Regions from separate parts of the Homo sapiens genome. Here region 2 is linked to region 1. Evidence: fine-mapped expression QTL. A gene starts in region 1. The other region holds a variant in brackets. All regions are shown on one strand. Distances are between the middles of the regions. Region 1 holds the start of LINC00865 (long intergenic non-protein coding RNA 865). Region 2 overlaps LINC01374 (long intergenic non-protein coding RNA 1374).

The links. PIP is the estimated chance that this variant, and not a neighbour inherited with it, causes the effect.
Region 2: its variant is the best candidate, but not a certain one, in a credible set for the expression of LINC00865 in whole blood (INTERVAL, PIP 0.74).

Annotation. Positions count from the first base shown.
Region 1 is chr10:89,827,366-89,832,579 of GRCh38, forward strand. It overlaps LINC00865 (long intergenic non-protein coding RNA 865), which reads left to right and starts at 2,128. Exons shown (of 4, transcript NR_038382.1): 1 at 2,128-2,380; 2 at 2,605-2,939. LOC105378424 (a long non-coding RNA gene) reads right to left here and starts at 3,456. Exons shown (of 3, transcript XR_946196.3): 1 at 2,667-3,456.
Region 2 is chr10:89,880,981-89,886,194 of GRCh38, forward strand. The region is part of intron 1 of LINC01374 (long intergenic non-protein coding RNA 1374); the gene reads left to right. Among named protein-coding and RNA genes, the nearest start is that of LINC01374, 30 kb to the left of the region's middle. The variant C/T (reference allele first, on the strand shown) is at 2,411.

The DNA.
Region 1 (5,214 bases):
GTTCTTATTGAGGTGTGGAGAATTCAGCAGAGGAAGAGGTCAAGGTGGGATGTGGATAGAACAGTTAGGAAGCTGTTGCAGCAGTTCAGGTGAAATGGACTGGGCTTTGGTCAGGTGGTTGGCCATTGAAATACAGAGACATTTTATCATTTGGGATTTGGAGTAGCTGTAACTGAAACTCCAAATTACAGTGGCTTGGACAGATATTTATTCCTCTCTCGCATAACTGAAATCTGTACATAGCCTAGAATTCAATTGGTGGCTCCACCATTCTTAGGGACCAGATTCCTTCCATTTTGTCAATACGTGACTTCAACCTCCTCATTGACGGTGGCTGCTTTAATTCCAGTCATGTTGTTTTCATCCCAGACAACGTGAATGATGAAGGGAGGAAAAAAGATACATCCCTTTCCTGTAAGAGAATTTCTAGAAATTATACGTGATGCTTGCAGTTACAGCTCATTGGAAAGCACTCAGTAGCATGGCCCCATGTGATTACAATGGAAGATAGACAATAAAATGTTTACTCTAGGTTACTACAGGTCTAGTTGAAAATCAGGACGTCTATGACTAAGGTTGAAAGGAACAGAAAACGTTGATAAATAGCCAACATCTGTAATACAAGTAGATAAAGTTGAGACTTGTTTTGGAAATAAAGTTAGCAGGATTTGATAACTGATTTAATGGGGGTTGGGTGAGGACAAGAGAAGGAACAAATCTCATTTCTACTTTTCTGAGACAATCAATGGTAGTACCTTTTTGGAAATGAAAAAAATGAAAAAAGGGGCAGGTTTAGGGCAAAGAACAAAAATTAATTAGCTGTTGGGAGCTTCCTCAAAATTATAGAGGGAGCAATTTATCAATTTTTTGTTGTTGTTCCATTCTAGAGATGTTTTATGCCCATATAGGAATGTGGGTGTGCATACCTGATATGTGTGTATACACACATATTTTATTTTTACAAAAATGGTAGGGTTTAATTATACCATTATATACCTAAAATCCTTTACTTGATATATATTGGGGATCTTTCCATATAATTGCATGAAGAAGTGCCTTACTATTTTTAATCATCACAGAGTATTTCATTGTATGGCTTTGCCATAATTTATTTAACCAGTTCTTATCTGTACATTTGTTTCTGTTTTTTTCAGATTATAAAAAATGCTGCAATGAATGTCTACACTTTAAAGTAAAATTGTTGGGTTTAGGGGCACATTATTGAAAATTTTGGCTTGCGTATTTTTTTCATAGAGGTGTCAGCAATTTCTACTCCCACTGGCAATATATCGGGATGCCTGTTTTCCTTTACTCTTGTCAACTCAATGTGTCAAGCTTTCTGATGGTTAAAATAATATTAGATTTTTGTTTTAATTTGCTTTTTCTTAGCAGAAATGAAATAAAACACTTCACATGTTTAAAATGTTTTATTTCTTTTTCTAAACATGTCCTCATTTTTGCTATTGGATTCTTATTTTCTTATTTAATTGAAGGAACTGGTTATACGTTAGATTATCTGTTTTGCAAATATTTTCCTGTTTATCCTTTTTTGTCCTCATAGTAAATTTCTTTCTATAAATTCAACTTATTTACTATGAATAGCTTCTTGTTATTAAGTAGGTTTAATACAGTTACCACGTTGGTTTGCATGCTTTAAACTTTATTCTCCTCTGTAAAATACATCATTTTACAGAAATGAGCTCATACTGAATATATCTTTTAGGTTTCTGCTTTTATTCTCACTTAATAATAAAAATCTTTCTAAGTCATTCATTGTTTTAACAAATTATTTTTAATTGTTTCATACATTATTCTGTCATTTGGAGTTAACAATAATTTACTCAAGCAACCCTCCCGCTGTTGCATAATTAGGTTATTTTCATTTAAAAAAAAACCGATATAAGCTACAGCCATGGTAGTTTCACTATGATAAAGTCCTCAAAGTAAAATTTGGAGGTCATTGTGCAAAAGTACTCTCCTTGTGCTTCAATGCTTCCCGCAGCTAGACCAAGCTCCGCGGGCAGGAGCTGGAGTCCAAGCTAGGGGAAAGAAGGACCTTCCGGGCCCATAAGGCGGGAGGCAAGGAGGGCCCCTGGGCAGCCCCGCGCTTGCGCGCCAATCACGGCCGTTATGGATTTCGATACGTTACCAAACGGTCTCCTACAAAGGCAGAAACCGTTTAAATATTTCAGAAGGATTGATTTTCATTTTGCAAATATAATACTGGTTCATTTTCTTTCTCTTCCTCCATCCATTCTACTATTGAACATAAAACGTGTCAATAGTATTGTAGTTCAGCATGTATCTCAGGATATTAAAAGGGCAGTGTGACTCAGCTAGAAAAGGATGAACTTTCCCCAAAGATAAAGTGACCTATGCGGTAAGTCCTACGGGACTTCATATCCTCATTGGAGAGAGGTTTAGGGTGTTTCTAGTTGTAGCAGGGTTAGTTGCACCTTAGGTTGAAGCAAGATTTTGCTACTGGAAATTAAATATGGTAAAAGGAGGTGCTCTCGGCCGCCAATTTGACAAGGGATGGACCGTGCTGGTTTTGTATCAACTGGCCTAAGCTAGAACTTCATTTCCATTATGTCTCCATATCAGGTTTGGCCAAAAGATATATCTATGCCAGATTTGGGAAGCAGAAGTGAAAGAGTAACCGTTACTCTGTGTAGCTGGTGCGGAAGGAGAGAAGTGTAGATGTACTGCTTGTGGGCTCTAGCTTGTCCTCGCCTGCCTCTGTCTTGACTCCAGCTGGTGTCCTTTTCTGCCTGCCTTGCTGACCAACAGCAGCCCCAAACCCACAGTCAATGCAGAGGCAACAGCCTTCCATGCACTTCTTCGCCAGCTCCTGTTGTGGTCTCACTCTTGCAACTGGATGTTCCCAGTTCTCTATATGTAACCTGTGACTTTTCCTTCACTTGACTACTTCAGGAGAGGTGAATAGAGACTTTTCTCCAATTCTCCACCTTCCAACGGTGGCCTTACTTCCCCGTCTCCTCCCACTATTGTGCAAGGTCTAATTTTTTAATCCTTAGACTATAAACTCTGTGGAGGTAGCCACCTGTTTAGTTTACAGCTATAGTCCCAGCGCCTGGCACCCAGAAGACACTCATTAAATGTTTGAAGAATTATTAAAGCCCCCAATAATTGATAGCCCTTATTATTTATCCAGTACTTAGATTCTCAAATATGAAACACGAACAACTTGGTTTCATTATCTGGCTTAAAAAGCTTATCAGGGAAAAAGTTTTTAAAAATATATTTTGGGCAGCATTTGAGTCATTTCCCGCACCCCCAAACCTATGTCAGTCGATAGGAAGTCTGAAATTGCCTTGAGTTCTGTAGGCAGGACACTTCAGTGGGCTGAAAAGTGTTGGGCTTATACCTCACTGCTCACTGCTCATCATAACTCTTCCCCTCTTTGCTTGGATTTTTTTTCTTAAATATGCCATGGTCAGCAAAATTTTTATTTCCTTTCTTCTGTAAAGTGACTTCTTTAAAAACCCTAATTATCTTATACTACCTAAGTTTTAAATTGTCTGAGAGAAATATTTTCTTTTTGTTTTACCTAAGAGTGTCTTTTCAATTTTCTTTTATTATCTTTTCAAAACCATATCACTCAACCATCTACAGCTTAGTGTGCAGCATTGTGGTATGAATATGTGGCTGGAAAGTCAGGGATTTAAAAGAACTATGAAATATATATTTTGACTTTTGGGGATAATTTTCTGGGAACAGATTTTTAAATACCTCAAGCCTTTTTTATATACTAATATCCTACCAAATATATGCCATTTTAGCAGCTCATAATAGTTATTAATAAAATATTATGGTTGTTATTCTATTGTTTAACTCTTCCCCCATGTCTTCTCATGAAAAGCTCATATACATAATGTATATTGTATTCTTCCATACTGACTATAACATATTGACTGTTCCTGACCCTTCTGTTTAACCAGTTTTAGCATTTTTCACTTTCCTCATTTTCAGTCATTCTTCTCTTTTTGAAGTATTCCCTGTTCACTTCCATCAGGTTGGAATTTCACTTTGGCCTCACAGTCTACTCAATCTCTTTAATGTCCCATGAGCACATCTTTCATGGCATCTAAGTAGGCTACCATGTAATTCAATCATTTTTCACACTTCTTAAATGTTAAAAAAATTAATACATAAACACTTAGAAAAGTAGAAAATTCTTCATTTAATTATATTAACTCTCAACAATCCTTAAAGTTCTTTAATTGTAAATTTCATTAAGGTAACTTAGGTTCTTGTTCATAAAGTCAAAAAGTTGTATGTCATGTAATGCAAATTACACCATTATCCACTCTTCTCCATCTCTGATTCTCACTCTCCAAAGGCAACAACTTTCATCTCTTTTAACTGTTTTTTTTTCTATTGTTTACTGTCACAAGCCTATAATATACCTCTCATACTATTTATTTTTCAGTTTGGTTCTTATCTATTGCCTTTCTTCTACAAAAGATGAGGAGTTGGCTGTCTTACAACTGGGCATGTAGCTTCTTCTTTCATTTCTTAATCTTGCAATATCATATTTTTAAAAATCTTATCAGTGTTTAGTGTTTATTTTGACAATGTAAATATTATTCACAGATGAACTTGTAGTGTATTAGGTTTACTTCTTTTTTGTAGACCTTTGCTTTTGTTTTTCCTTGACTATGCATTGCCTTGATTTTTGTTTAGTTAGTTTTCTAAGTAGTTATTATCAGTTCATTCTGCCAAATTCTGACAAGTCTTAAGTGCCTTTTGATACATTCAAATGAAACTATCCAGTTTCTTTTATTTTCCTTTTTTTCCTGGAGGCCACGGTCCTAGGTACATTGCCTTCATGAGCTCCTTCCTCCATAAAAAATAAAAATTATTTTACAGCCACGTTGGTATAAAGGTAAATATGATCAGGGTGGATTTATTATCATATAGTCACTGTTATTATATTAATTTTATCTCCTAATTTTAAAGGAAATTAAAATGACGACATTTTTGTAAATTCCTAACAGCGTCATGGGCCCTCAAGCACTATGCCTACTCAGCCTAATGGATGAGTCGGCCCTACGGAAGGCATTCTTTGCTTCTGAACCCCTCTTTTCTCCTGTTCCAATCTGGACTACTTATTCTGTAGGCCCTGAGATGTTTTCTTACTGTTATCCTGACAATTCAATTTTTTTCTCTCATATATTGGATCCCCTATTT
Region 2 (5,214 bases), 54 kb after region 1:
CATATGGTTTTTGTCCTTCATTCTGTGATGTGATGTATCACGTTTATGGCTTTGTGTATGTTGAACCATCCTTGCATCCCTGGGATAAATTCCACTTGGTCCTAATAGGTTATCTTTTAAATGTGTTGTTGAATTTGGTTTGCTGGCATTTTGTTGAGGATTTTTGCATAGGGATATTGGCCTTTACTTTTCTTTTTCGGATATGACTCTGGTTTTGGTATTAAGGTAATACTGGTGTCATACAATGAGTTTAGAAGTATTCACTCTTCCTCTATTTTTTGGAATAGTTTGAGTAGAATTGGTATTAGTTCTTTTTCTTTACTGGGAGACTACTTATTACAGCTTTGATCTCATTACTTGTTATTGGTCTATTCAGGTTTTGGATTCCTTTATGGTTCAATCTTGGTAGGTTTCATGTGTGTAGGAATTGATTCATTTTTTTTCAAGGTTTTCCAATTTATTGTCATATAATTGCTTATAGTAGCCTCTGGTGATCCTTTGAATTTCTGTGGTATTGGTTGTAATGTCTCCTTTTTCATCTCTGATTTTATTTATTTCAATGTCCTCTCTTTTTTCTTAGCTATGCTAGCCAAAGGTCTGTCAATTTTTCTTTTCAAAAAAGCAACTTCTTGTTTTGTTGATATTTTGTATGGTTTTCTTTATTTATTTCTACTCAGATCTTTATTATTTCTTTTCATCCACTAACTTTGCATTTGGCTTGCTCTTCTGGTTCTTTCAGATGCATCATTAGGTTGTTTATGTAAAATTTTTCTTCCTTTTTGATGTAGGCACTTATAGCTCATTACTGCCTTCACTGTATTCCATAGGTTTTGGTATGTTGTTTTTCCATTATCACTTGTTTCAAGAAATTTTAAAATTTCCTTCTTAATCTCTTCACTAGATTACTGGTCATTCAGGAGCATATTGTTTAATTTCCATGTGTTTGTATAGTTTCCAAAATTCCTCTTATTATTGGTTTCTAGTTTTATTGTACTGTGGTGAAAGAGGATTCTTGATATGATTTCAATTTTTGAATGTTTTAAGACTTGTTTTGTGGCCTAAAATAGGGTCTCTCCTTGATAATGATCCATGTCCTGAGGAGAATGTGTATTCTGCAGCCATTGGATGAAATGTTCTGTAAATATCTATTAGGTCCATTTGGTCTATAGTACATAATGAGTCCAATATTTCTTTGTCGATTTTCTCTCTGGATGATCTGTCCAACGCCAAAGGTGGGGTGTTGAAGTCTACAGTTATTTTTGTACTGAGGTCTCTCTCTCTCTTTAGCTCTAATAATATTTCCTTTATATGTCTGGGTGCTCCTTTGTTGGGTGCATATATATTTAAAATTGTTATGTCCTCTTGCTGAATTGACTGCTTTTTCACTATATGACCTTCTTTGTCTGTTTTTATAGTTTTTCTATTGAAAGCTATGTAGTCTAATATAATATAAGTATAATTACTCTTGTTTTTTTTTTTTGTTTGTTTGTTTTCCATTTGCATGGACTATCTTTTCCCATCCCCCTTAATTTCAGTCCATGTGTGTCTTTACAGGTGAAGTCTGTTTTTTGTAGGCAAAAAGTCACTGGGTTCATTGGGTCTTTTTTTTCTTTTTGATTCATTCAGCCAGTCTGTGTCTTTTGTTTTGAGAGTTTAGACCATTTACATTCAATGTTACTGTTGATGAGTAAGGACTTACTCCTGCATTTTGTTGTTTTCTGGTTGTTTTGTTGTCTTCTCTTCATTTTTCCTTCCTTCCTATCTTCCTTTTAGTGAAGGTCATTTTTTTCTGGTGGTATGTTTTAATGTCTTGCTTTTTATTTTTTTGTGTATCCATTGTCTGTTTTTAGATTTGAGGTTACCATGAGGCTTGGAAGAGAAAAGATGACTTTATCTTGTAACTTGAATACAATTCTTTGTATCTCTTTGACCATATTCATGTTTTCCTTTATATTTCTGATTATATGGAACATGTTTATAATAGCTGTTTTACTATCCTATTACTAAATTCTGCCATTTCTGAGTGTTTTCTATTGGTTGATTTTTCTTATTGTTATGGGTCATGTTTCCTGCTTCTTTACATGCCTTGTGTGTTGGTCACTGAACACTGTAAATTTCATATTGTTAGGTATTAAATTTTATTGTATTTCTTTAAAGAGTATCAGGCTTCGTTCAGTCAATTTACTTAGGATCAGTTTAACTCTTTAGTGGTTTGTTTGTAAGCTCTGTTAGGGTGGGTCCAGACAAGCTTCAGTCAGGGCTAACTTAGAGTCACTGCTAAGGTAATACTCTTCTCACAAGGCTTCCCAGTGCTCAATGTATTACAAGGTCTCTTCAGTCTGGCTGATGGGGTGGTGATATCTCTCCACTCTTGCTGTAGTTTCCAGGAATTATTCATCCTACTTCTGTC[C/T]GGTGTTTCTTTCTCTAGCCTTGTGAGGTGTCACCACAAAAAGGTACTGATCAGTACTCAGCCAAAGACTCAAAGGGATCACTCTGTGGAAGTCCAGAGGTCTCCCTCTGTGAAGCTCTTACCTCTTCAGTATTTTGTCCTACACATTTTAGTTGTCTTAATTTCCCTAAAGTTTAGTTTCTATTTGTTCAATTCAAGGAGACTCCTGGGCTCTATTTGGGTACTCTTCCCTGTGCTGTAACCTGGAAACTGCTTCTAGCAATAAGCTGGATCAGTTGTAGGGCGCAATTCACTTGTAGGGATTATAGTTTTATGCTGCTGTTCCCATATCTGAAAATAAATAATGCATTCTTTAATGTCCTCTGGATCCTTCTGGAGAACAGAATCATGTGGGGGGGTTCTTAGGCTCTCATAAATATATTGTAACACTTCCACTTCCATAAGCCTTTTGACCATTTCCTCAAAATACAGTAACACAGTTTCAGCATCCCCATATATTTTATTCTAGGACATTGCCATGTCAAGCCTATCCCAGCAGCGTATTATGACCAGTTACAAAGGCTTTGTATGATATTAAGCCTTGAATCATAGAAAAGTACTCCTATGTTAATACACTTGCTTCTATCCAAACTTATATTCTATCTTCCTTGTCCAACATCCCTCAGCTCTATCTCCCACATTTTCCTCTAAATCCTGCCAGTATGTAGTAGCATTAGGGGTTTATGTTGAGGGGAAAAGAGGGTGAATATTGGGAAGGACAAATATCTGATGACATTTTTATAAGATCTCCCTCCAAGGAGGAGGAAGCTTTTCTTCTCTTACAAGGGGAAGGGATTTGATTCTGTCACCTCAGAGGTCTCAGGACATTCTGGTGCTTTACAATTCTCATCTGTGTCTATCCAGATGTTTCTAAGGTATCAAGATGCCTCTTTGGTTTTTTCTATTAGGACTTGAATTGCTACAAGCATATAATCTATACTGCAGGTATTTCATATAGGCATTAAGTGATTCAGAACCAACTAATTTTTAGCATCATAAAATTAGGGTTTCACCGGCTTGTAGTTTGACAGGATACTTATTTATAAAATGATTTTCACAACAATCTTTAAAGGTAGGTATGATCTCGATTCAACCTTGGAGGAAACTGAAGCTCAGTAAAATTAAGTGACTAGCCCAAGGATGCACAGTGATCAATTGCAAAGAATGAACTCTATTTTGTCTCTGAAGTATGTGCACTGCCCATTATGTTACATAACCTTTCTTTATAGCTCCTATCAAGTCATTCTACATAAGAAACATCTTATGTGGGAAACACTTCAATCTAGCAACTGGTTACTGTAATGAAAAGATATAGTGAAACTAGATACTTGAATTGACCAGTTTATATATTAATAATTTTGTGATGGATTCAATTAAAGATTTTATGAAAACCTTGGAAGAGTATGAAATAATTATACAGTGTTTATTATTTTAGCTCTCATTTATCTATTTTGGATACCTGAACTTATATGTTAAAGAACATTAAGTACATATAGTTAGGTTGGAACTCAGCTGGGATTCAACTTGTTTGCTGAAACTTCAGATACTATAAACTAGTATCCTGTGTAGTCAGAATTATATTATCTTGACTCATTAACTTTATTTAGCATCTATTTTATACTACATACTGATTTTATTAACTTCTAATCACTCTTGTTTCACTTGTTTGAGATAGGTAAAGCAGAATTTATCTGGAGTTTAAGATTAAGGCTGACAGATTAAATCTGCTTCTGTTATTGTTTGTTTCTGATATTAAAAGAGACTTCTTATTATGACCCCAGTCCATCCAAATTGTATACTATAATGGATTCTATATGAATAAATTAAGGGATCTAGATTTTAATAGTAAAACCATTTTATAGCAGCAGTAGTTTTATAAATGGATATTTTACCTCTTAAACAAAATGTAATTGGAAAATAAAATACACTGTCATTCAAATAACATCTCACGTTATAAATAATCAGTTTGGATGCAGCTACAAGATTTTTCTGGCACAGAAGTAAATTAAACACTTTAGTAAATTGTCAAACTGATGAAAATCCTAACCCTGTGCATGTTGTTTTAATGGTGTAAGAATATGGACAACAAGATGTTTTTGTTCTTTTATTTTTATCAGAGTAAATGGAAGAATAGTGTCACAGACAAAGGTTCTAGGATTTTCCTGGGAAAAGGAGGTTATAGCAGTTAGAAACGCCAGCAGTAGCTTACACCAATAATTTATTAAGATTTTTGTTTTTACATTATTGGCATTCCAGGGGTAGGTGGTTACTGTTGTAGGCTCATCTTCTCAACTCTCCCATCAGGGACCCAGTTACTTTCTATCATTCTGAACTGTTATTCTTCGCGTGTACACCTTCATTCTCCTGTTGGTTGCCTCACGGCTACGAGATGGCTGCTATAGGTCCAGCCATCAGGAAAAATGGGGAAGGAGCAGGACATGTAAGATCCTTTATCAGGCCACCTTCACATATATTTTCTAGACAAGGATTATATCACCGGGCCATATTTAGTTGCAAGGAGACTGGGAAAGTGAGGAACAGAATTGATTTGGCTAATCACAACTCATCTCCAGAGAATAGGCAATTTCTGCTTCCAAATAAAGTTGGATACTGTTCAGGAAGAACAGGCTGGATATAAACCGTTTGTGTTTTGGTCAGCAATATGTTCTGGTTTTGGTTTGGTGGGAAACAGGAAGCTTACTGAGGAAGGGAGACACCTGGAAGTAGTCTTAATCTGGCCATAAGGACCATGACACTCTAATATT